Linked DNA regions of Homo sapiens. Each later gene encodes a partner of the first gene's protein in a complex. Each region holds a gene or a part of one and is shown in the gene's direction. Other genes may lie near its edges.

Region 1 (7,038 bases):
CTCAACATTTGTTTAAAGATACCCTAAAAGTATTTTATCCAGCTTTTCACTTAAGATAGTAGTTCAGGGTATCTAGTATGTCATGCTGCCGTTAACAGAAGTCAGTTGTAGTGATTTTTTTTCTCATTTACATTTATCTGTATCTTTAAAAATTGCTACAATAATATATGTTAATTGAGTAATTCAAAAGAACCAGTAATGATAATTACAAAATTTAGTAACCGTTTTATTGGTTTTGAATCCTTCAGACCCCTGGAATGCCCTACCAATCCTGTGGCTAATTCAAAATATGGCCCAGAATTGTCATTCCCTCCAAAATATCATCTGCCAGCGAGAATATGGGCCCCAAACATTTTGACCTTCACAGCGTTGGTATTTAATGAATGTTGCTGAAGGCAAGTACTTCATATGGTGTTGCAACTTGTTCCCTTGCAGGAATGGTCTGCCGAAAACCGACCGACCCGGTTGATTGGCCACCACTTGTCCTGGGACTGCTCACTCTGCTGAAGCAGTTCCATTCCCGGTACACCGAGCAGTTCCTGGCGCTGATTGGCCAGTTTATCTGCTCCACGGTGGAGCAGTGTACAAGGTACAGAAGACCAACCAGGACTACGTGGGACTTCTTGTCACAAAACCTAACTTAAACCTCACATTACCAAATTCCTCTTATCGCCCTAATAGAGATGGGAAATGGTTGCTCACCCTTCTCTGTAAAGCAAGTCAGGGCATACCTCCTTGTTTAGAGCAATTACAGGTGTGTCCATCCTTAGTCACCCTGCCAGGGGAACTCCATCCGGTCTACTCACATTGATTTTCCAGGAGTGACTCAGGACCATGAATAGTAACTACCATGGGGAAGAAAGTGCAGCCCTGTTCCTCTGCACTCTTGGATGCAGCTCTTCAATCTCAGCGAGCCCCTGCACTCCTGCTGGGCCACTGCCAAGAGATGATTCCACTCACTTCAGTGGGAGTCAGAGAACATATCAGTGTGTCAAAGCCTGGGCAGTGTCTGCATGTAGAGAAGCAAATTTCACAAGAGTTGCTATTTGATACAATGCTTATAAAACTTTAATTCCTGCCAGTTCTTTTCCCCTGCCCCTAAATGTGGCTTTTCTGGGATAAAGAAAAAAAAGTTATTTCCATGAGATGCTGGGTCCTGTGCCTCCTTCTCTGCTATCCTAAAGGGTCAGCCTGGCTACATAACCTTTGCTGTCATGTTTGCTTGGTCATTTTTGCCACTATAATGTAAAAAACGAATCAAAGCGGCTGGGCACAGTGGCTCAAGCCTGTAATCCCAACACTTTGGGTAGATTACTTGAGGTCAGGAGTTCAGGACCAGCCTGGCCAACATGGTGAAACCCCATCTCTACTAAAAAAACACAAAAATTAACCACATGTAGTGGTGGCCACCTGTAATCCCAGCTACTCAGGAGGCTGAGGCAGGAGGATTGCTTGAACCCAGGAGGCCTCAGAGGTGCAGTGAGCTGAGATCATGCCACTGCACTCCAGCCTGGGTGACAGAGCGAGACTCCATCTCAAAAAAAATAAAACGAACCAAAGTGATCTTCTAAGTCCACACAAAATACTACTAAGTCCTAAAACTGGAAATGATTTTCGAGGTCATTTAATTGACCTCCCACTAAGTGCATGAATGAGCTCTAGGACATCCTTGACAGGTAGTCATGCAGCCACTGCTGGAACACTCTCACCGAGGGGGCTTGTGCTACCTCTCCAGGCAGCACAGTCCACTGGCTAAGTCTTGTTCTCATTAGAAAGTTCCTGATTGTGATTATTAGAACCTGTGTCTCTGGATGTTTCACTCGCTGAGCTTTTTCCTACCTTTTGAAATCATACAGAATAATGCAGTCTCCCTCCTTTGCAACATCACTTCCGATTTTGTATGCCATCTGTTGTCTTAGGTCTTCTCAATGTTTAGATAAGCCCCTTCCACCTGTTCCCGATGTCTTGCAGTTTAGAGGCTGCTCACCATAGTGAGTGACTTTTTCTGGGTGTTCCAGTCTGTTTTTGACCATCTTAAAATGTGGCTTCCCAAACTTGTATTGAGATTCCAAGCACAGCCCTCCCCTTGGCACAGAGGAGTATTACACGTCTTCATTCTGGGCCCTCTGTGGACAGTACAGCAGCTACAATTGCAGTGATGAGTCCTTTTTTTTTTTTTTTTTTTTTTTTTTATGAGAAAGAGTCGCTCTGTCGCCCAGGTTGGAGTGCAGTGGCGTGATCTCGGCTTTGCAGTGATGGGTTTCTTGACATCCAGTGCATACCAGTGGCTCCTACTGATTTTGCATTCTTTCTAAACCCCAATGTCGTTATTTCCCGTGAGCTGCAGTCAGGCCAGCTCCTCCTCCTCTTAGTTAATGAATCGAACAACAAACACTGGTGTTTTCCTGGGATAGATGTTAAGACTTGCTTCAGAAACAAGATTTTTTAACAATTGAAAAATAGAGGAGAACTCAAAGTCTCAAAAATGAAATTGTAACAATCACGAAGTGAGGTCAGTTGGCAAGGAAAGCAGTAGGCTCATAAAAACCCAGCGCCTCTGGCCCAGGCTCCCAGAGAGGAGGGGAAGGACTCCAGTTCAGGTGGTGCGGAGGTGATTAGCAAGTAACCTCCACACAACTGGCTGTCCCAATTGTAGCTCCCTAGCTGTCAACTTGGACAGGTTCTTCTTCCTCTCTTTCTTTTTCACTAATGGCAGTAAAGGCTTAAGTGTGGCTCTAGTCCAGCATGTTATTGGCAACCCTGAGGGTGGTGATCAGGCTACAGGAGACCAGCTGTAAGTCAGGCTTTCTGATTCAGCAGAGCAAAGGAATCTAAGGAACCTGTGACGCATGGGAATTCCTTCCTTTCTCTTGCTCCAAGCAGAGCAAATATAGCCCTGGTCACAGATTGAAAGATTGAGAGCAGGGAGAATTTTTCCAGGTACAGTCATTCTTAACCCATTCAAAAAGCAAAGTTCATCAGCGAAATTAACCAGTAATGTATTAATAGTACTAAAAGTTATTTGTTAATCAGAAAATGCCAATTGGTACAGGAATTGGAAATCGTTTTAACACCTAAAAACTCCTTTTGATGTAAACAAGAAGGAACGTTAGCTCTATAAGGAGCCTGGCATGTACTTTGCTGTATTCCCAGCTCTGGAACAGTGCTTGGCACTGTAGTTGCTGAATGAATGAATACATGAGTAAAATCCCATATGAAAAATTGCTAGATGCTGTATTTATTTGATACCGTCAAATATGCAGTACATGCCAAGCACATTTCCAGATGCTGGAGAAACAAAGATGAACATATGACCTAGGCCCTCGAGGAGTTTATACTCCTGATGGGAACCCAGCACACCATTGAAAAATTAAGAGGCTTGGAGAATGCTGCTAACTATTATGACAGCCCAGGAGAATCAGGGAGGATTCCACAGGAGAAGTACCCAAGCTGAGACTCGAACAATGTCTAGAAGTTTACTTTCAAATCAGTGTGCAGGCCAGGTGCGGTGGCTCACGCCTGTAATCCCAACACTTTGGGAGGCCAGGGCGGGTGGATCACCTGAGGTCAGGAGTTCAAGACCAGCCTGGCCAACATGGTGAAACCCCGTCTCTACTAAAAATACAAAAAATTAGCCAGGCATGCTGGCGTGCATCTGTAATCCCAGCCAGTCGGGAGGCTGAGGCTGGAGAATCACTTGAACCCGGGAGGCGGAGGTTGCAGTGAGCCGAGATCATACCACTGCACTCCAGCCTGGCTACAAGAGTGAAAAGTCTGTCGCAAAAAAAAAAAAAAAAAAGTGTGCAGGGATGGGAAAGTATGGGACCTGCTAGGTATTGAATCATGTAAACAGAGGGAGATGAGTCTGGATAGATAGCAGGGATCGTGTTGTAAACGCCCATGGAAACCGTATAGAGAAGCTCACATTTACCCTATGGGGTGGGCTCCTGAAAATACATGAGCAAGGTAACAACTTGACAGGAATTAAGAGCATGCTCAATGTTTTTGTTCATCTTTGACTTCATTAGGTAATCTGTTGGTAATTTAGTCTTTCAGGATTCTGACCAAAAGGGCTTATGATGTGCAAAGCAGTTAATTGATCTAAACTGTTCTCTATCACAGCCAGAAGATACCTGAAATTCCTGCAGATGTTGTGGGTGCCCTTCTGTTCCTGGAGGATTATGTTCGGTACACAAAGCTACCCAGGAGGGTAAGTGATAGATAGTAAAGAACAATATTAATAGTTGTAAAAAGATGCTAATAATAGTGGCCCTGGATTCATCAGGAGTGAAGCCCAATAGGTCGTTCACAGTAGATGCCTCTGCGCCTCTCGCCACTGCTCTACCCCCAGCTCTGAAATGTCCTTGCCTTTTCCACCATGGGAATTGCCTTGCAGAGTTTAACACAATGCCCCTCCCGCCTCTTCTTCCTCTCCACCATGTACTCCTGTCAGCAACTCATCTGGTTCAGGAGTTAAGTGAAATAGGCAAGCCAGGAGGGATTCCTTAAGTGGCCAGAGGAAAGAAATAATCATGGTGGTTTGTTCTTTCTCTCTCCACTGACCTGGTTCCCACAGCAAGCACAGTTAAGTTCATGCCACAACTAAATGTATATATGAGCACTGTTTCCAAAAATGGCAGACTACTTTTTACCTGCCAAGACATTCTTTCCTATCCCTTTCTCATTAGTAATTCCACTTTGTTAAATTTTAGCTCAAAGTGGAGAGCTTGATACTGAAAAATACAACTTTCAGCAGATACTGAAAATCATTTGATTTTTAGAAATTAGTAGGTTAGGAATCAAAGATACTTTCTTACAACATGAGCCAAAGATGAACTTTTAAAATTAACTAGCAATGTCAGTACATAATAGTGAAATGTTAGTGGCATTCCCATTAAAGCCAGGACTGTCACAGTGTCATGACAACTATACAGACTCTTGCAACTACTTTTGTTATACAGGTGCAAGACAATAAGAAATGAAATGAAAATAAAATGCATATTGGAAAGAAGACAAACTCTGTATTATTTGAGATTAATTGTCTTCCTTTTTTATTCTATTTTTCCATAAGTTATTGGGATACAGGTGGTATTTGGTTACATGAGTAAGTTCTTTAGTGGTGATTTGTGAGATTTTGATGCACCCATCACCTGAGCAGTATACACTGCACCATATTTGTAGTATTTTATCCTCACTCCCCTCCCATTCTTCCCTCCAAGTCCCCAAAGTCCATTGTATAATTCTTATGCCTTTGCGTCCTCATAGCTTAGCTCCCACATATCAGTAGGAATATACGATGTTTGGTTTTCCATTCCTGAGTTACTTCACTTGTAAGAATAATCTCCAGTCTCATCCGGGTCACTGCAAATGCTGTTAATTCATTCTTTTTTATGGCTGCGTAGCATTCCATCGTATGTATATATCACAATTTCTTTATCCACTCATTGATTGATGGACACTTAGGTTGGTTCCACGATTTTGCAATTGTAAATTGTACTGCTGTAAACATGCATGTGCAGGTATCTTTTTTGAATAATGACTTCTTTTCCTCTGGGTAGTTACCCAGTAGTGGGATTGCTGCATAACTGTCTTCCTTGAATACCCAATAGAATCATGTGAAAAACTATCAAAATAATACAGAGATCAGAAAACAAGCTGGCTACAGAATAAATGTATGAAATACATCAATCGATTAAAAAATACAGTGTGAAAAAGGACCTATTCACAGAAATAACAAGGCAATGATATAGCTAAGAATAACCTCTATAAGAAATATGAAAGAACACTTTATTAAAAAACTATAAAAATTTTAAATATAAAATTTGAAAGTCCATGTTTCTGAATGAGGGTCCTCGAATATTACAGAGATAATAGTTCTATCTAGTTTATAGGTTTACTGCAGTTACAATCAAGATTTCAGGTACTTTTTTAACTTCAAAGAATATATTTTTTAAAATGTCATAGGACTTAGGCAAGTCCTTTTTTAAAAAAAAGATATTAAAATATTATATCAAGTATTAAAACACTGTAAAACTGTAGAAACCAAAATAGGGTGCTACTGGTATGCAACTAAATAGAAGGAACAATGAGCAAGAATATGTAGCCTAGAAACACACCCTGTGCATACAATGGTACATAAGGAAAAGTAGCATCTCAAATTAAGAGAGAAAGGGAATATTAGTCAATAGATGTAAGTTCACACAGTTAAAAAAATAGCAACTTAGTCCCCTTTACATCTCCTATGTTATCAAAATTAATTACAGATAAAGGGTTAGTGTGAAATATGAAACAAATAAATTAGCCGAAATTTTAGGCAAATATGTATCAGCTCTCAGAAATTCCTAAGTATAAAACCAAAAGAAGAAACTATAAAGAAAAAGATTTAGAGACTTGATTTTTTATAAATGCTGAATGTAATTAATTCTGTGTCAGTGTCTCAGTTAAAAAACAAAAGACAAAAGAGGAAATACCAACAAAGGACTAGTTTCTTGATTTATAGTGTGCTCTTCAAATCTTCAAGTTCAGTATGAAAAAGATGTCCAAGCCAATAGAAAAAAAGCAGGGGAAGGGCAAAGGAAATTAAGAGGCAGTTTTCAAGAAAATAGAAATGACAAACCTTCGGATTCAAGGGACAAAAATCCAAATACGAAAATTACTGTTTCCACTTATCAGGTTGGTGAAAGGTAAAATGTTGGGCCCCCATTATTCGGAAGCATTTGGAGAAATGGGACTTGTAAGTGCTATTAATTGGAATGTAAATTGACAGCCTTTGAGGAGGGCAATTTAGCTTTATCTATTTTAAAAAAACATTTGTAATATACTTACCCTGATCCCAGCAATTCCACTGCTAGGAATTTTACCTGCTGGATATATGTGCAAAGGTTTACCAAGATATGTGCCCAAGGATGTTCATAATATAAGATTTAGCAGAGGTAGAGAAGGACACAATATTATGTGATCCTAATTTTGATTGTGTGTGTGTGTGTGTGTGTGTGTCTGTCTGCATATGTAAGTAAACTGGAAAAATTCATTACAAAA
Region 2 (7,841 bases), on another chromosome or scaffold:
CTGCTGTCACACCGTCCAGAAAGCCTTCTCCCAGCACCACAACCCCTCCACCAAGGGTTAGGTGTCTCCAGCAGATGCTGCACAGCTGGCTGCCCTTTGCCCACCCTCCCCTTCTTTCTCATAGAATCCTAGGACTCCTCTGTATCTAGAAGGAGTTGTGTGGTCCAGTGCTGGCCAAGAAGATGTGAGAGCAAGTCGCTGGGTGGAGATTCTTAGGAAAACTTCTTAAAAAGAACGAGACTGGGCTCCTTTCTGCCTTTTACCATTTTTGTGTATGCTTGCCTTCTTCCCACCTGGGACTCTGATGCAGCACCTGTGAATGGGCACACATATTACAACTCTTAGGCTGAAACCCACGTTCTCAGGCAGAGGTCTCTTGTGGGCATTTAGTGCTATAAATGTCTCTTTACACACTGCTTTAAATGCGTCCCAGGTCTTAGGGTATATACCCAAAGGATTATAAATCGTGCTACTATAAAGACACATGCACATGTATGTTTATTGTGGCAGTATTCACAATAGCAAAGACTTTGAACCAACCCAAATGTCCATCAATGACAGACTGGATTAAGAGAATGTGGCACATATATACCATGGGATACTATGCAGCCATTAAAAAGGATGAGTTCATGTCCTTTGCAGGGACATGGATGAAGCTGGAAACCATCATTCTGAGCAAACTATCACAAAGACAGAAAACCAAACACTGCATGTTCTCACTCACAGGTGGGAATTGAACAATGAGAACGCTTGGACATGGGGCAGAGAACATCATACACTGGGGCCTGTCAGTGGGTGGGGGGCTGGGGGAGGGATAGCATTAGAAGAAATACCTAATGTAAATGACAAGTTGATGGGTGCAGCAAACCAACATGGCACACGCATATCTATGTATCCAACCTGCACATTATGCACATGTACCCTAGAACTTAAGTATATAAAAAAAAAAAAGAAAAAAAAACTTTCACCTTTTTCCAAAGTGTTGGGATTATGGGTGTGAGCAACCACATCTGGTCCTTTTTTTTTTTTTTTAATGGAGGTGAAATTCATATAAGTTTGGCCATTTTAAAGTGAACAATCAGTGGCATTCAGTACATTCACCATGTTGTGCCAACACTATCTCTATGTAGTTCCAAAACATTTTCATCAGCTCAAAATGAAACCTTGTACCCATGAAGCAGCCACTTCCCATTCTCCCCTCCCCTTAGCCCCTGGAAATCGGCTTTCTTTCTCCACGGATTTACATATTCTGTATATTTCCTATAAATGGAATTACACAATAGGTGACCTGTGTCTGGCTTCTTCCACTTAACCTAATGCTTTTGAGGTTCTGTCACATGGTGCCATGGATCAGCTCTGCCTTCCTTTTTATGACTAATACTCCACTGTATGTCCATATCACCATTTGTGTATTCACTCATTAATCTATGGACACAAGCCTCATTTTTAAGCACTTCAAATATGTTAACTCACTGAATCCTCACCACAAAGACAGATTCAGTTATTACATATTGACAGAGTGAAAACTGAGGCACAGGTAACATGCCTAGGATCACGTGGCTATGAAGCAGAAAGAGGACTCCAGCCGAGGCAGTCTAGTCCCAAAGTCCTTCCCTTCCTAGTAACCACTATGCTCTCCTGCCTCTCAGAGAACAACCCACATGGCACAACACGAGGGCTAAGCTGTCTGGTCTGTCGGGTGAAGCTTCAAATGCTGTTCATTTCCGATAAGGGGAGGTTCCTGGGCTGCAGAGGCTTCCTAGAGGAGGAAGACCATGTAAGGTCTAACTCAGGGCAGGTCAGGATGGTGTGAACTCACTCTGAACACAGTCACCGATGGGTGTTTAGGAAAATTGGCTCTGGAACTCCCACAGGGAAGGTTCTTATCTTTGCGTGCACAACACAGAGCCCTCTGGGTAGACTTCTAGACCCAGGCCTCTTTCAAATACATTAGAAACCTCAGCAAGATAAACTATTTTCTGTCTGGCTGCATCTGTCTATCTGTTTAGAGAGCAGGACATTTCCATCCTCCTCTCTCCAGGCATCCTTGGAAGTCTTTCCCACAAGCAAGACATCTTGGTGAAATTTAATGCTGCGGAGGGAAGTGGTTTTCAGGAGAGAGGAGTCTGTTCCCAGAACTGTAGCACAAAAGCTAGAGGCTGAGTAGGAACATCTTAAACTAAGTCCTCAGTCTTATTTCCAGTTTTCTTCCTGTAGATCGGGGCTTAGGACACCCTGTCACATTTTCTTCACTCCTCCACCAGGAATTCCTAAAGTCCATGCTCTTGGATCCTGGCAAATCCAGGAGGCTGGGGGATGTGGCAAGCTTCAGCAAGACTGCCTGGGACCAACCCTGCAGCCTTAATTCCCAGGCCCGCTCAGCCCAGCTGGCCAGCAAAGGCAGGCAGAGCTTCTGTGTCCACACATGAGAATGACCTGCAGCTGTTCTTTGTCCAGGCTGAGGTCCAGGATTCCCATTGCAGCTCCTAGGAAATCTTTAAAATTAGGTCGGGGATGAGCCTGTCAGTAGATTAGGTAGGGAACTTTTATGAAGTTGAGGGTGAACCATCTGGAGGGTGAACTGGCTGGTGTGATTCTAGAACTGGGGGTGGTGCCTAGCAGTGCATTTGTGAGAAGACACAGCCAGGCTTGGTATATGATGTGGTGTGTGTGTATATTCACAGGCATCGTGGAGCATATACACTTTTTTTGTGTGTGTTGAAATAAACCTTACAGATTACAAAGTACTTTTTTTTTTTTTTCTGAGACAGGGTCTCTCTCTGTCGCCCAGCCTGGAGTGCAGTGGTACAATCATAGCTCACTGCAGCCTCGATCTCCCAAGCTCAAGTGATCCTCCCGCCTCAGCCTCCCATGTAGCTGGGACTACAGGTGTGTGACACCATGACTGGCTATTTTATTTTATTTTTGTAGAGATGGAATCTCACAATATTGCCCAGGCTGATCTCAAACTCTTGGGCTCAAGCAGTCCTCTCGCGTCAGCCTACCAAAGTGCTAGGATTACAGGCATGAGCCACCACGCCCAGCCAGATTACAAAATACTTTGACATCTTTTCTCTACAGCCCTCAAAAGGAGGCAGGGCAAGCACAATTAAATCCCATTACAAATGGGGTGACTGAAGCTCCATTCATGGCTTGCCCAGGGTCACACAAAGAATGAATAGCAGATCCCTGAGCCTGTGTGCTTCCCTCTGTGCCAGGCTGCTTTACCCAGGCATGGGTGCACGTTGTGCATGGGACATTTCTCCTTTGTTGTGTCCTGAGTACCTTAAGCCACTCAGATATTGCTCAGGTGGAGTGAGGGGAAAATGTTTTCAGGTTGTATTAGTCAAAACAAAATACCACACACTGGGCGACTTTAAAATCATACATTTATCCCTCACAGTTCTGGAGGCTTGGAAGTCCAAGTTCAAGGTGGCAGCTGGACAGGTTCCTGGTGAGGGCTCTCTTCCTGGTTTGCAGACAGCCACCTTCTCTTCGCATCCTCACTTGGTGGGAAAAGACAGAGGAGAGAAAGAGAGAGAGAGAAAAATGAGATAGAGAGAGAGAGAGAAATGAGATAGAGAGAAATGAGAGAGAGAGAGAGAGAGAGAGAGAGAGGGAGACACAGAGACAATGCTCTCTTTTCTTACCAGATCTATAATGAGGGCCCCACCCCATGACCTCATCTAACCGTAATTACCTACCAAAGGCCCATCTCCACATACCATCACATTAGGGGTTAGGGTTTCAACATAAGCATTTGGAGAGGACATAAACATTCTGTCTACAACATGAGTGGAGATCCATCTCTTCTTTACCTCTGGTAAGGGGACCACACGCTGCAGCCAGCGAGACAGTGGCATGTTCTTGTTACAACTCGATCTAACTCCCCCAGAAGAGGAGGCAGGGAAGGCGGACAAAACTGGGAGAGGGAGAGAGTGTTAGGAAGAGAGTAGGGTGGCCAGAGGCAGCAAATAAAATATAAAATGCTTAATTCTGAATCTCAGATAAACAACCAATAATGTTTTTTAGCATAAGTATGTCCCAAACTAAGCTTGGGACATATTTATGCTACGAAATTATTCGTTGTTTATCTAAAATTCAAACTAGCTGGGCATCCTGTCTTTTAATCTGGCAACCCTAAAAGGCAAGGGCCAAAAATGCCGGAGGCAAGCCAACGGATTCCAGGAGGGACAACTGCTGGACTTTGGACTGATGATGCTCTTTTTATATATTTAACTTTTTAAAAAAGCCTCTTTTCTTTCTTTTTACCAGCTTTTCACTAGCTTTTTAAAAATTGTGGTAAAACATACATAACCTAAAATTCACCGTCTAAACCATTTTTCAGCATACAGTTCAGTGGGATTAAGTAGATTCACACCGTTGTGCCGCCATCACTACCACTCATTTCCAGCACCCTTCCATCACCCCAGCCTGAAACTCTACCCATTGAACACGAGCTGCCCAACTCCGCCTTGCTTCCCCATTCCTGGCGACCACTGCTTCTGTCTCTGTGAATTTTGACTATTCTAGGCACTTCACAAAACTGGACTCATACGATATCTGTAGTTTTGCGTCTGGCTTCTCTATTGAATTCTTAAAGGGGGGTGGGAACTAAGCAGATCACAAGGGAGCTGCCCACAGAGGTAAAGACAAGGTCAGGTAGGCTGAGAGACGCAGGAAAGCGGGTCAAGGCGTAGGGCTGGAGGGCAGGGGCGGGCCCTGGGCGTGGGCTGGGGGTCCTGCCCCGGGGCGCACCCCGGGCGAGGGCTGCCCGGAGGAGCCGAGGTTGGCGGACAGCTTGGCCCTGAGCTTGAGGGGAAGGCAGCGATGGGACAAAGGACGGAGGTCTAGGAAGAGGGTCTGCAGAGCAGAAAGCACGGGTAGGGGCGGCCTGACGCTCGGAAGACAACGGATGGGAGCCGTGTGCACGTCGGGAGCTCGGAGTGAGCGTGAGTTCCGTGCCCAGGCCCGCGACTCGGCCCGACAGGACAGCGCTCCGGGTCGACGGGGTCCTGGAGCCGCGCTCGGGGAGGCGTCTTGGGCTCGCCCCGGAGCTTCCTCCCTGGAGCCGCGCCCTGCACCCGGCCTTGCCCGGCCCTAGCAGGGAAGCCAAGGCTTGTGGGGCGCAGGGACCCGGGCTCTGCGGGGTCCCGGTTCCGCCTCCCCACTCCTGCGTCTTCCCGCCCCTGCCGGGTTCTGGGAAGCCTCGCGCGGCTCTTCCGCAGCTGCTGCCCGCCCGGAGCTCCTGGTCCCTCGTAGGGGACCCCACTTCTCTGACACCGCTTTGGGTTCCCGGGGCCTACAGCGAGGCTTGTAACTCCGGGAGAGACCCTGGAGCGGGGTGTGGGAGAACGGTCTGGAGGAAGGGCTCCGAGCACTTCGAAAGTATAAACCGCGGTCCCAAAGAGGCGTGCTGTGTCTGCATTTTCCTGGGAGTGCACGGTTTACATTCTCGAAAGCAGTGCTGTCGACTAGAAATATTGAGCGATACACATGTACAAGTTTTGTCACTTAAAAAGAATTTGAAAAAACTTCATAGATGCAAAAAAAAAAAAAAACCCACCATTATTAAAGAATACTTAGGTATTTGTGGAATGCATTGAAGAGTTAACAAAATGGATAGGCAGGAAATATCGCAGACCTAGAATGAATTACAGTTACCCACTGTGGAACTGAGGAGCTAGGGTTTCTCATAAAACTCCCTGATAGAAGACGACTTTTGATAAAATTTTTTTTCCGCCAACAAAATCCCCTGTCTTCTCAACTAGTTACTGTCTGTCCACTAAATAAGAGGTGGTCCGTCACTTCTTCAGATGAGCAACTACAGGCTTTTCAAAAGATAATTGCTAATCAACCCCTTTGTGCCTGGGTTTTCTTATTTGTAAAAATAGATACTACTACCTAACTCCAAAGTGTGTGGTGAAGACAAACAATTGGGGTGATGTATACTAAAGTAACGAAAGTGTTGACCACACACTACGGGCTGGTTAGTGTTAGATTCCCTTGTTTTTCCCTCAGTATCAAAAACAGATCTAATTTAGGTTTACATAAAGACAAAGTATGAAGATAAGGTGACTTACAGTTGGTACTACTAACAAAATGTTTGGGCTAATATTTGCATTATTGCATGAAAACAACAAAACATATCAATAAATAACAAAAAGCTTGGAATTCAGACGACAGATCCAAGTCTGGGCTTGATCTCAAGCTAGTGTTTTGATGTTGAAAAAATGTTATTTGGTCTTTCTAACCCCATTTCCTTATGTAAAATAGGGGATGATGATAAATTCACTGATAATAAGAGTTAAATGAGATTCTTGAGGAGTCAGAATGGTTCTAACATGTGTAGGTATTATTAGCAGTCATACTGTAGCATAAGAAAATACCGTCTGCTGAAAGAGGGACAATAAAGATTATCTACATGGTCATCATTTAAAAGCTACCAGATATAGGAAGAAGGGGCCATAAAATGATAACGTTATGATGATTAATTTTGATGCTTAGGTCAGAGTCCATTCTAGGATATCTGCTGCCCAAAAACAGCAGAGACTCATTTCTTTGGAATCACAGGACGCTGAGTGAGAGGAAAGAAAAAGAAAAGAAATATTTAAGTCACATATGTGATTTCTAAAAGTAAAAAGAAACAGATGAAATTAGTGATATATTTTTAAAATCCAGTATATCCCAAATATGGTTATTTTAGCATGTAATCAATATAAAATAATAAGATATTTTACATTCTTTTTTTCTAGCCTTTGAAATTTGGTGCATATTTTACACTTATGGCACATCTCAATTCAGACTATCCACATTTCAAGTGCTCAGTGGCTGCATGTGCCTGGTGGCTACCATATTGGACAGCACAGGTCTAAGGATTTCATTCCTGCCACAAGTCCAAACTCCTAGCTTTAATTTTGAGTGTTTTTAACAAACTGGCCTCTGTTTATCATTCTTTCTTCTAGTACTTCCCCAAGGATGATTGTACCCTCAGCACTCAAGACCGCTTGCGGTTCCCCTACACACTTTTTGTTCAAGCTGTTTCTTTTACCTGGAATGCTGTCTTTGCACCTTCTTCCTGGACCTGGTTCACCCTCGTTGCCTAGGCTGGAGTGCCATGGCGCGATCTTGGCACACTGCAACCTCCACCTTCCCGGTTCAAGTGATTCTCCTTCCTCAGCCTCCCGAGTAGCGGGGATTACAGGCCTGCACCACCACGCCTGGCTAATTTTGTATTTTTAGTAGAGATGGAGTTTCACCATGTTGGTCAGACTGGTCTCGAACTCCCGACCTCAGGTGATCTGCCTGCCTTCGCCTCCCAAAGTGCTGGGATTACAGGCGTGAGCCGCTGCGCCCGGCCGAGAGGCACACATTCTGCTAAGAGCTTTTTCCTGACTCCCCTAACTCCAAGAGGGATTTGTCACTCCTTAGCTTTGTACCCATGACTGGAGTAGAATGAATTTAATTTGAGTTTAGTTGTTTTTGAGACTCTCCCTGGCTAGTGTAGTGTCTTATTCGTCTTTGTTGTGATCATGGCCTGCACCTAACAGATGATCAGTAGATGTTTGCAGACAGAAAGTAAACCACTCATCAGGTGTATTCAGTCCCATTCTTGAACGGGCTTGCTGCCTCCTTTTTGAGGAGATCTGTGTATGTACTCTTCTTTCACGCATATGTGTGAGCAAACACACACACACTAACAAGAAATTCATCTGAAGATGTGCACAGGAAATATCTTGCATCTTTACCCCCTTTGTGATCTTACATATGGGAGAACTGAGGCACAGAAATAAGTTAGGACAGCCAGCAAACTTGCATCAGTATAAATACAAAGAAGGGGA
Region 3 (7,038 bases), on another chromosome or scaffold:
TATTTCTATGAGTTGTACTTTTTTATCCTCCATATATAAGTGAGATCATTCAGTATCTGTCTCTGTTTGACTGGCTTATTTCATTTAACACAATGTCTTCCAGTTCATTTATGTTGTCACAAATGACAGGATTTCATTCTTTTTTAAGGCTAAATAGTATTCCATTGTGTATATATACCACTTTTTTTAATCCATTCATCCATTGATGGACACTTTTGATTCCGTATCTTGGCTATTGTGAATAATGTTGCAGTGAACTTTCAAGTACAGATGTCTCTTGAATGTACTAATTTTACATCCTTTGGATATATACCCAGAAGTGGGATTGCTGGATCATATAGTAGTTCTATTTTTAATTTTTTGTGGAACCTCTGTACTATTTTCTATAATAGCTGTACTAATTTACATTCCCACCAACAGTGTACAGAGGTTCCCTTCATCACATATATGGTTTCCAAATATAGTCTCCCATTCCATAGGTTCTCTTCACTCTATTGATGGTTTCGTTGGCTGTGCAAAAGCTTCGTAGTCTTTTAAAATAATTTTTAAAAAATAATTTAAAATCCAGATTCTACAAACTTCTTAGTGTGATGTAATCCCATTTATTTATTTTTGGTTTTGTTACCAGTGCTTTGGGGTTTATATCCAAAAAAAGTCATTGCCCAGACCAATGTCGTGCAACTTTCCCCTTATGTTTTCTTCTAGTAGTTTTACAGTTTCAGGTCTTACATTTAAATCTTGAATCCTTTTCGTGTTAAATTTTTTTATATGGTAAAGGATGAGGGTCTAATTTCATTCTGCATGTGGATATCCAGTTGTCCCAAAATGATTTATTGAGACTGTTATTCTTAACATCTGTGAAAAGTATGTTTCTGTAACTGTCTTTTCTGTGTTCTTAACATCTTTCTCAAAAATCAATTGACTTTAAATGCATGGATTTATTTCTGGGCTCTTTATTCTGTTTCCTTGGTCTATGGCTGTTTTGATTACTGTAGCTTTGTGGTAGATTTTCAAATCAGAGAGTGTGATCTCTCTGGCTTTGTTTTTTTGGCTTAATATTGCATTGCCTGTTCAGGGTCTTTTGTGGTTCAGTATGAATTTTAGGATTTTTTTTTCTATTACTGTGAAAATATTATTGGAAAATTGATAGGGATTGCATTGAGTCTGTAGATTGCTTTGAGTGGTGTCAACCTTGTAACAACATTCATGTTTCCAATCCATGAACACACGTTATCTTTCCATTTATTTGTGTCTTCTTCAATTTTTTTCATCAATGTGTTATAGTTTTCAGTGTACAGATCTTTCACCTCACTGGTTAAATTTACCCCTATGTATTTTTTTTGTAGCTATTGTAAATGAGATTTTTTTTCTTTTTTTTCAGATAGTTTACTTTTAGTGTATAGAAATGCTACTGATTTTTGTATGTTGATTTTATATCCTGCAGCTTTACCAAAGTAGTTTGTTAGTTCTAACAATTTTTTGGTGGAATTTTTTATAAGATTTTCAATATATAAGAGCATGCCATCTGCGAACAGAAACAATTTCATTTCCTTTTTTCCAATTTCAATGCCTTTTATTTTTCCCTCTTGTCTAATTACTATAGCTAGGACTTCTAGTACTATGTTGAATAGAAGGGGTAAGAGTGAATATCCTTGTCTTGTCCCTCATCTTAGAGGAAAAACTTTCAGTTTTCACCATTGCGTATGATGCTAGCTGTGGGCTTGTCATAAATGGCCTTCATTGTGTTGAGCTAGATTCTTTCTATACCTAATTTGTTGAGAGTTTTTATCATCAAAGGATGTTGAATTTTGTCAAATGCCTTTGTTCCATCTATTGAGATGATCATACGGTTTTTGTCTTTCATTCTGTTAATGTGATGTATCACCTTTACTGATTTGCATATGTTGAACCATCCTTGTATCCCAGGGATAAATCTGACTTGATCCTGGTGAATGACCTTTTTAATGCGCTGTTGTATTCAGCTTGCCAGTATTTTGTAGAGGATTTTTGCTTCTATGTTCACTGGGGATATTGACCTTTGATTTTCTTTTCTTGTAGTGGATTTGTCTGGCTTTGGAATCAGGATAATGCTGGCCTCCTAAATTGAGTTCGAAAGTTTCCCCTCCTCTTCAGTATTTTGGAAGAGTTTGAGAAGGATTTGTATTAGTTCTTCTTTAAATGTTTGGTAGAATTCAGTAGTGAAGGCATCAAGTCCTGGGGGTTTTGTTTAGTGGGAGACTTAACTACTGATTTGATCTCTCTACTTATTATTGGTCTGTTCAGATTACCTATTTCTTTATGATTTAGTCTTGATAGGTTGTATGTGTCTAGGAACTTATCCATTCTAGGTTATCCAATCTGTTGGCATATAATTGGTCATAGCAATCTCTTATGAGCCTTCATATTTCTTTTGTTTTAATTGTAAAGTCATGTTTATTGGAGTATGAACTTATATGCAGTAAAATTTACCATTAAGTATGAGATTGGACAAATGCATAATCATACCATAATCAAGATGTAGAATAGTTGTAGAACAAGATATAGAATCACTCCAAAAATTCCCTCATGCTCCTTTGCAGTCACCCCTTTTTTATCCCTAGGAATGCATTGTTCTGTTTTCTGTCAAAAGGGCCAAATTTAATCACTGCAATGGTCTCCAGTACTGTGGAAAAATTCCTGAGCATACAAAACACACAAACCAAGTTTTTAAAAAATGAGATACTTTTAAAAATGTCTTTAGCATATCAACCAAATGAAGGTAGCTTCATATTTTACTACAGATGCTCAGATATCTTAGGCAGAATTAAGTCCACCATTGCCATATATATGCCTCAACAGTAATATTTAAGAGTAGACTGTAAAAATAAACTTACAATCTTTAGAATCGTCAAAACAATGGGATTATTAAATGACCTTTGTAAGTTAAAGCAAAGTTTATAAAGTTGTCTTACATAGTTGTGAAATAGCTAGTCTAGTTAGATAGAATTAACGTCTCCTAAAACTGACCTGCTTGAAGAACTACTGTAGGTCATGTCTTTGTAGGTAGAGTATGTGAACGAAGATTAAGTACTTGCTCTTTTGTGTTAACACTGTGTCAAGTTTCAGACTGGGGCTGGTTGATAGAAAAACTAGTTAAAAAAAACTATTTTAAATAATGGAATTGAATTTTATGGAAATTCTCTGTGGCACCAACTCAACCACAGGACAGAAACAAAAAATTCTCATCTAAACATTCCTGTAGAAAATTGGGACCATCTAAAAATTCACCCCAGCTACCACCATGAAAGAAACAAAGAAAGCAAAAACTTCTGTTCTGAATATATCAGTGGTCCCATATTCAGATACTTCTTATCTACTTGAAAAGCTTTGATGGGTGGGGCACGGTGGCCCACACCTGTAATCCCAGCACTTTGGGCCCAGGTGGGCAGATCACCTGAGGCTAAGAGTTCGAGACCAGCCTGGCCAACATGGTGGAATGCTGTCTCTACTAAAAATACAAAAATTAACTGGGCGTGGTGGTGCACACCTGTATTCCCACCTACTTGGGAGGCTGAGGCAGGAGAATCACTTGAACCTGGGAGGTGGAGGTTGCAGTGAGCCAAGATTGCGCCATTGCACTCCAGCCTGGGTGACAGAGCAAGACTCCATCTCAAAAAAACAAAACAAAAGAAAAAAGAAAAGCTTCGCTGATTCTTTCAAACACACATCAGACCTTAAGTTCATTAGCATTTATAACGTCACTGAGCTGCATTGAGCTCTGTGGCTGAAAAAGCCAATTCTTTGTATTTCTGTGGTATCAGTTGTAACATCTCTTTCGTTTCTGATATTATTTGAATCTTCTCCTTTTCTTAATCTAGCTAAAAGTTTGTGGATTTTGTTTTTCTTTTCAAAAATCCAGCTCTTAGTTTCATTGATCTTTTCTATTGTTTTTCTAGTCTCTTTCATTTTTTTCTGTTCCGATCATTATTATTTTTTTCCTTCTACTAACTTTGGGTTTTATTTGTTCTTCTATTCCTTCAGTTGTAACACTAGGATGTTACACTTTGGATCTTTCATCTTTTTTGTTATAGGTCTTTACTGCCGAAGCTTCCTTTCCTCTTAAAACTGCTTTTGCCACCTCCCATAAGTATTGATGTGTTGTATGTCCATTTTCATTTGTCTCAAAATACTTTTAATTTCGTTTTTAATTTACTTGACCTATTGGTTGTTTAGGAGCATGTTATTTAATTTCCAGTTATTTATGATTTTTTTCAAGATTCCTTCTATTATTGATTTCTGGTTTCAAACCAATATGGTCAGAAAAGATACTTGATACGATTTCAGTCTCCTTAAATGTATTAAAATTTGTTTTGTGGCATATCATATAACCTGGAGAATGTTTTGTGTGCCCTTGAGAAGAATGTGTATTCTGTTGCTGTTTTATTGAATTTTCTACATATGTCTGTTAGGGCCAGTGTTTCATTATTGATTTTCTGCCTGGATGATATGTCCATGGTGTTTGTAGAGACGGCGTCTCACCATGTTGCCCAGGCTAGTCTCAAACTCCTGAGTTCAGGGGATCCTCCCGCCTTGGCATCCCAAAGTGCTGGGATTACAAATGTGAGCCACTGTGCTGAGCTCTTTTCCATTCTTTCACTTCAATCTATGTGTGTCCATTTTTTAAAGGTGAAGTGAGTCTCTTGTACACAGCAGGTAGTTGGGTCTTATTTTTGTATCTATTCAGTCAATCTGTGTCTTTTGATCAGAGAATTTAGTCCATTTACATTCAGGGTAATTATTGATAGATAAGGACTTACTGCTGCGATTTTGTTCATTGTTTTCTAGTTGCTTTATAGATCTTTTGTTCCTTTCTTCCACTCTTGCTGTCTTTTGTGATTAGATGATTGTCTCTAGTGATATACTTTGATTCCTTACTTTTCATCTTTTGTGTATTTACTATTAGGTTTTTGCTTTGTTGTTCCCATGAGGCTGACATAAAACATGTTATAACAGGCTATTTTAAACTGATAATAACATAATTGATAACATAAAAAACCTCTGCACTTTTACTCCACCTCTCCACATTTTGCTTTTGATTTTGCAACGTATATCTTTTTATACTGCATATCCCTTAACAAGTTATTGTAGCTATTATTATTTTTAATAGTTTTGTCTGTTAACTTTCATACTAAAGATATAAGTGATTTAATCACCATGACAGTATTAGAATATTCTGAATTTGACTGTATACATTTTTTTTTCAGCTCTAAAATTTCTGTTTGATTTTTTAAATAATAATTCCAATCTTTCTGTTACATTTCTCATTTTGGTCATTTATTATTTTCTTGATTTCATTGAATTGTTTCTCTGAATTTTCCTGAAGTCCACTGAGTTTCCCTAAAACAATAATTTTGGATTCGTTGTGAAGAAGGGTCAGTTACTGGTGATTTGTTTCTTTAGTAGTGACGTGTTTCTCTGATTATTCTTGGTCTTTGTGGCCATGTGTTGGTATGTGTGTGTTTGAAGAAGTAAGGACTTACTCCAGTCTTTGCAGACTGGCTTTGTCTGGGAAAGCCCTTCACCAGTAAGCTCATCCAGAGGTTCTAGACAGGCCATCTGTTGTGGTGCATGGCAGGCTTGCTGCTGGAGTCCTTGGGTAGGCTGGCCTGGTGCCTAGGTTCGTAGGGTTGTTCCTGGAGCCTGATCCACTGGGGTGGACCTGCTGATTAGCTCTATAGGGGTGGGCCTGGATCCTTAGGGTTCCAACTTGAAGCCTAAGTCTGCAGGGGTTGGTCTGGCACTGGGGTGAGCCTTGAGCCTGAGTCTGCAGTGTCTGGCCAGGTTCCAAGGTGGGCCTGGTGCTTGGAACCCCTGGGGTGGACCTGGAGCCAGAGTATGTGGGGGTGGGCCTGGGTCCTGGTTGTACTGTGACTAGCCTGGAGCCTGAGTCTGCAGGAGTGGTCCTGCAGCCTCCGTCCATGGGGGCCAATCTGGCAATGCAATCTACTGGGGTGGTCCCAGACTCTGGGTCTGCTGGAACATACCTAGACCCTGACTCACCACAGGGATTTGTCTGGGGCCAGCTTGGTGCTGGGGCAAGTGTGCAGCCTGGGGTCACAGGGGCCAGACTGGAGCCTGAGATTATAGGTGCTGGCCTGGTAACTTGGGCTACATGGGGCTGGCCTGGGTCCTACGGCAATAGTGGCTAGCCTGGAACTTGAGTCCACAGGGATGGTCCTGGAGCCTGTGTTTATGGGTGTCAGCCCAACAGAAGGGCCTACTGGGATGGGCCTAAACCCTACTTCCACTAGGGTATGGGCTGCAGGAGCCAGACTGGGGCCACAGGAGCTGACTTGGCACTGGTCAGGCCTGGAACCTATATCTGCAGGAGCTGACCTGGTGCTGGGGTGGGCCTGAACCTTGGGCCCATGGAGGCTAGCCCTGTGCTGGGATTGGTCCAGAACCTAGGGCCACTGGGGCTGGCCTGTCCCTAGAGCAGACCTGGAGACAATCTATGCAGTCTTGCCTGGTGCTGGGACTGTCCTGAGCCTTGAGCTGGTCTGGAACCTACGGTCCCAGTGGGACAAGCCTAGAACTCAGGACTGGGTGATCCAGCCTAGTGCCAGGATGGGCCTAAAGGCTTCGCCTGCAGGTGTCAGCCTGGAGTCTGGGCTGAGGGGGCTTGCTCAGCACTGAGTTCTGCTGGGGTGGGCCTGGTGTTGTGGTCCAAGGCAAAGTCCTGTGCTCACTGCCTCTCCTTCGCCCACCTGGAGGGTATCTCTCTCCATGCTGTGCTGCCTGGAGTTGGGGGAAGGGTGACATGAGTTCTGTAAAACTGTCCTTCTTACCCTCTTCAGTGTGTTTTTTCTTACTTTTGTGCTAAACCCAGTGCTGTAATTTCTCACCTGGTCTCCTTAGCTCTTGAGAATGTATTTTCGTGCGTGAATAGTTTTTCAAATGGATGTTTCTGTGGGAGGATCAGTGCTGGAAAGTCCTATTCCCCCATCTTGCTGTTGTCCCACCTTTTTCTCCTTTATGTATGATAATCTAGGGTTGACT
Region 4 (2,938 bases), on another chromosome or scaffold:
AGAGAAACATTTGATGGATGCAACTGTAATTTGAAGTTTGGCAATACAGCTCTTCTCAAATTTCTTTTACTTCTTAATTTATTGTTTAAAAATGAACATAAATATCCATTATTATTTTCACTCATGCTTTCAGAAGAAACTAAAACAAGCAATGGAGACCTGTCTGACAGCACTGTGTCTGCTGATCCTGTTGTGAAATGATACGGATGGTATTCACTGCACATATGATGAAATCATCAGAATTGTTAAAACTTTTGCCAGTGGAATGGATAAACTATTGATGAATTGTTTCCTGGGTCACATCTCTGGAAAATAGATGTTACAGTTCTTAAAGGCAGTGCTTTAAAGTGAAGTTCATTCTGTTTCCAAAGGCTCTACTTTCAAAGGTTAAGAATGAGATTTTAAAATTGGATTTTTGCCTGGACTTGAGGGTACAAGATGTTTCTATTTGAAGTGAAGTTATAAAAGGGCAAATCCAGATTCATAAACTATCACCTCGGATTTCTTGTAATCTACATGTTTGTAATTTGTATTTGCATAGATCTTTGATCTATAGTTATTTCAAGTCATGGGAAATTCAATGCATATACTATATACAGCCAGTAAATACATGCTTAACAAAAGGAATGAGCCTGAAGTTCATAAAGAATACATATCAATATTCTTATAAAAGGAATATATGAAGATGGCTTTGATACTAGAGGTGAGGCACAAGTGTTTTATGTACTCTCAGTGTACAGTATAACTGATGATCCTTCTTTCATTGTTAATTTCATGTGACTCACAAGAGCTGCTGATGTCTTTGATGAGACATTTTATAACTAGTTTACATTGCTTTGAGAACATTTAACCTCCAACAGCTGCTTTAAATTTAAGATTTACTTAATACTCAGAAAATTCAGATAAAGCCATAGAGTCCTGTTTGAAGCTTCACTTCTATTTTGGTTGAAGGCATGATGTATGATGTCAGAAAAAAAATTGAATGAATTATTTCTACATCCAAACTCAGGTTTCTTCTACATTAGATTGAATTGAAATTTTGGTGATGGTTTGGGTAGACTTTTTTTTTATATCAAGTATAATTTAAAACATCAGATTAAATAATTACACTGTTCAGGCTTTTAAAAAAATACCACTGTGAGAATAAAGCGCTAGCAAGATACATCACTTACTGATTTTAAAAATACAGAAAGATTTTGAGTAAATTTTGTGCCCAGCAAGCTGTTAGTTTTATTTTTGTAAAGGTATGTAAGTTATTAAATGGTTAATCATGGCCTTTTAAAAATAAAATAAAGTGATACCTTTACAATGAAGACAAAAGTTTAAAACTTTCTAATACAAACACCATTTTGGGAAATGCTTGATTTTTTTCTATTGCATTTGTCTGCTAAACATTTCTTTGGATAAATCCTGCAAATACTTCTAACATTATTCTTTGATTCCAGCTTTTAGAATGGGTGTACAATGCCCTGTTTGTACTTACTGGTTAGGGTCAGGGTAACTTGCCAGCCCAAGATAAATACTTTAATTGTTAAAAGTCAGAAGAGACAGAATATGTAGGAAATGTTTTTTGTTTATTATGTAAACATGGCTTACAGAATTATGAACAGTGGATAGATTAAAGGCATTTAATATTTGTAATTCATAATAACTGTAGAAATGGCCCTAAAGCATGCTGCATAATTAATAATTTATATTTTCATTATTATAAGTGTTTATATTAATGATCTTGCATTTGATTATATCAAATTCGTCATTTCATAGCAACAGTATTGTTTTCTCTGTTTTTCTTCTCTAACTTCTCTGAAATCATCTCCTATTAAGGGATAGAAATTGTTACTAGAAGAGAATCACATGTTCTGTGTTCATTATCCCTACACATGTAAATTAATTATTTTATCAATACTAGATAGAGTTCACATGCTGACTCCCTGGATACCTACAGTTGAGAAGAAAATGACAGACAATTATTTTTCCTTTAGGTCAAAATAATGTCACTGCTATCTGGATAAATTATAAGTTCATATATTTGAAATAAGATCCTGGAAACGAATTTAAATGGTGTCAAACTGCAGAGCAACAGGGCTTCAGTATATTCACATCTAATAGGTTAATATGTACATTTGGATGATGATTTTTCTTGATAACATTAACATTAATTTTATTTTTTCAGACATACTGTAATTTAAAAATTAATGTGAGCGTTTGTTTTAAGTTCACAGAAAACTTAATAATTCAAATTCTCAGGAATTAAGGACTCACCATAACATTGTCAGTTCTAATGAAATTTTGTAAAAGATGGCAAGTTTGTTACCTCACTTGAGTGGGGTTTTCCTTTTCCCCCAATTCTAAGAGAATATAATGTGTATACTAAAACATTAATAAACATAATTTTGAAAATTTCCTTCCCCTGGATGTTTATGTTCAAAATTGAATGTCGTAAACCAGTAGTTCTTAATATTAACCTTTTTGGGGTCCCCCTTAATTGAATGAAATGAAATCTGTGGAATCATTTTTTTATAAAATGCATGCACATAGGTAAAAATTTGAAGTTTAAAATTGGCTCCTGTCAATGTATTCCAGGTGAAAGAAAGGTGTTTTCTTTCCTTTATACATCCTTGATCTTTCCAGAGCTTTTTTCCAATAAAAAGAACCAATATGAAGTTACTTTAAATCCTAATCCTGGAAAGGGATTATCAGTATGCATTGTTTAATGTTAGTAATAACTATAGTGCTATTTGCAAACCTGAGTTGAACTAAAACAATACAGTAGTCTCCCCTTATCCGTGTTTTACTTTCCAGTTTCAGTTACCTGTGGTCAGCTGTGGTCTGAAAATATTACATGGAAAATTCCAGAAACAATAAGTTTCAACTTGTGTGTTATTCTGGGTAGCATGATGAAATCTTGTGCTGTCATGCTGCATCCCGCCTGGGACGT

What was found.
Region 2: WASHC5 (region 1) and WASHC1 share a complex: the UniProt entries of both Homo sapiens proteins name them as parts of the WASH core complex.
Region 3: WASHC5 (region 1) and WASHC3 share a complex: the UniProt entries of both Homo sapiens proteins name them as parts of the WASH core complex.
Region 4: WASHC5 (region 1) and WASHC4 share a complex: the UniProt entries of both Homo sapiens proteins name them as parts of the WASH core complex.

The regions. Positions count from the first base shown.
Region 1 is NC_000008.11:125,025,792-125,032,829, reverse strand, and holds part of WASHC5 (WASH complex subunit 5), read left to right. Parts: intron 1-435; coding exon 436-589; intron 590-4,122; coding exon 4,123-4,210; intron 4,211-7,038. UniProt on the Homo sapiens protein: Acts as a component of the WASH core complex that functions as a nucleation-promoting factor (NPF) at the surface of endosomes, where it recruits and activates the Arp2/3 complex to induce actin polymerization, playing a key role in the fission of tubules that serve as transport intermediates during endosome sorting.
Region 2 is NC_000009.12:26,423-34,263, reverse strand, and holds the start of WASHC1 (WASH complex subunit 1), read left to right. Parts: upstream 1-4,807; 5' UTR 4,808-4,915; coding exon of another isoform or gene 4,916-4,952; intron 4,953-5,030; exon of another isoform or gene 5,031-6,608; coding exon of another isoform or gene 6,609-6,610; exon of another isoform or gene 6,611-7,841. UniProt on the Homo sapiens protein: Acts as a component of the WASH core complex that functions as a nucleation-promoting factor (NPF) at the surface of endosomes, where it recruits and activates the Arp2/3 complex to induce actin polymerization, playing a key role in the fission of tubules that serve as transport intermediates during endosome sorting.
Region 3 is NC_000012.12:102,051,977-102,059,014, reverse strand, and holds part of WASHC3 (WASH complex subunit 3), read left to right. Parts: intron 1-7,038. UniProt on the Homo sapiens protein: Acts as a component of the WASH core complex that functions as a nucleation-promoting factor (NPF) at the surface of endosomes, where it recruits and activates the Arp2/3 complex to induce actin polymerization, playing a key role in the fission of tubules that serve as transport intermediates during endosome sorting.
Region 4 is NC_000012.12:105,166,731-105,169,668, forward strand, and holds the end of WASHC4 (WASH complex subunit 4), read left to right. Parts: intron 1-133; coding exon 134-201; 3' UTR 202-2,400; downstream 2,401-2,938. UniProt on the Homo sapiens protein: Acts as a component of the WASH core complex that functions as a nucleation-promoting factor (NPF) at the surface of endosomes, where it recruits and activates the Arp2/3 complex to induce actin polymerization, playing a key role in the fission of tubules that serve as transport intermediates during endosome sorting.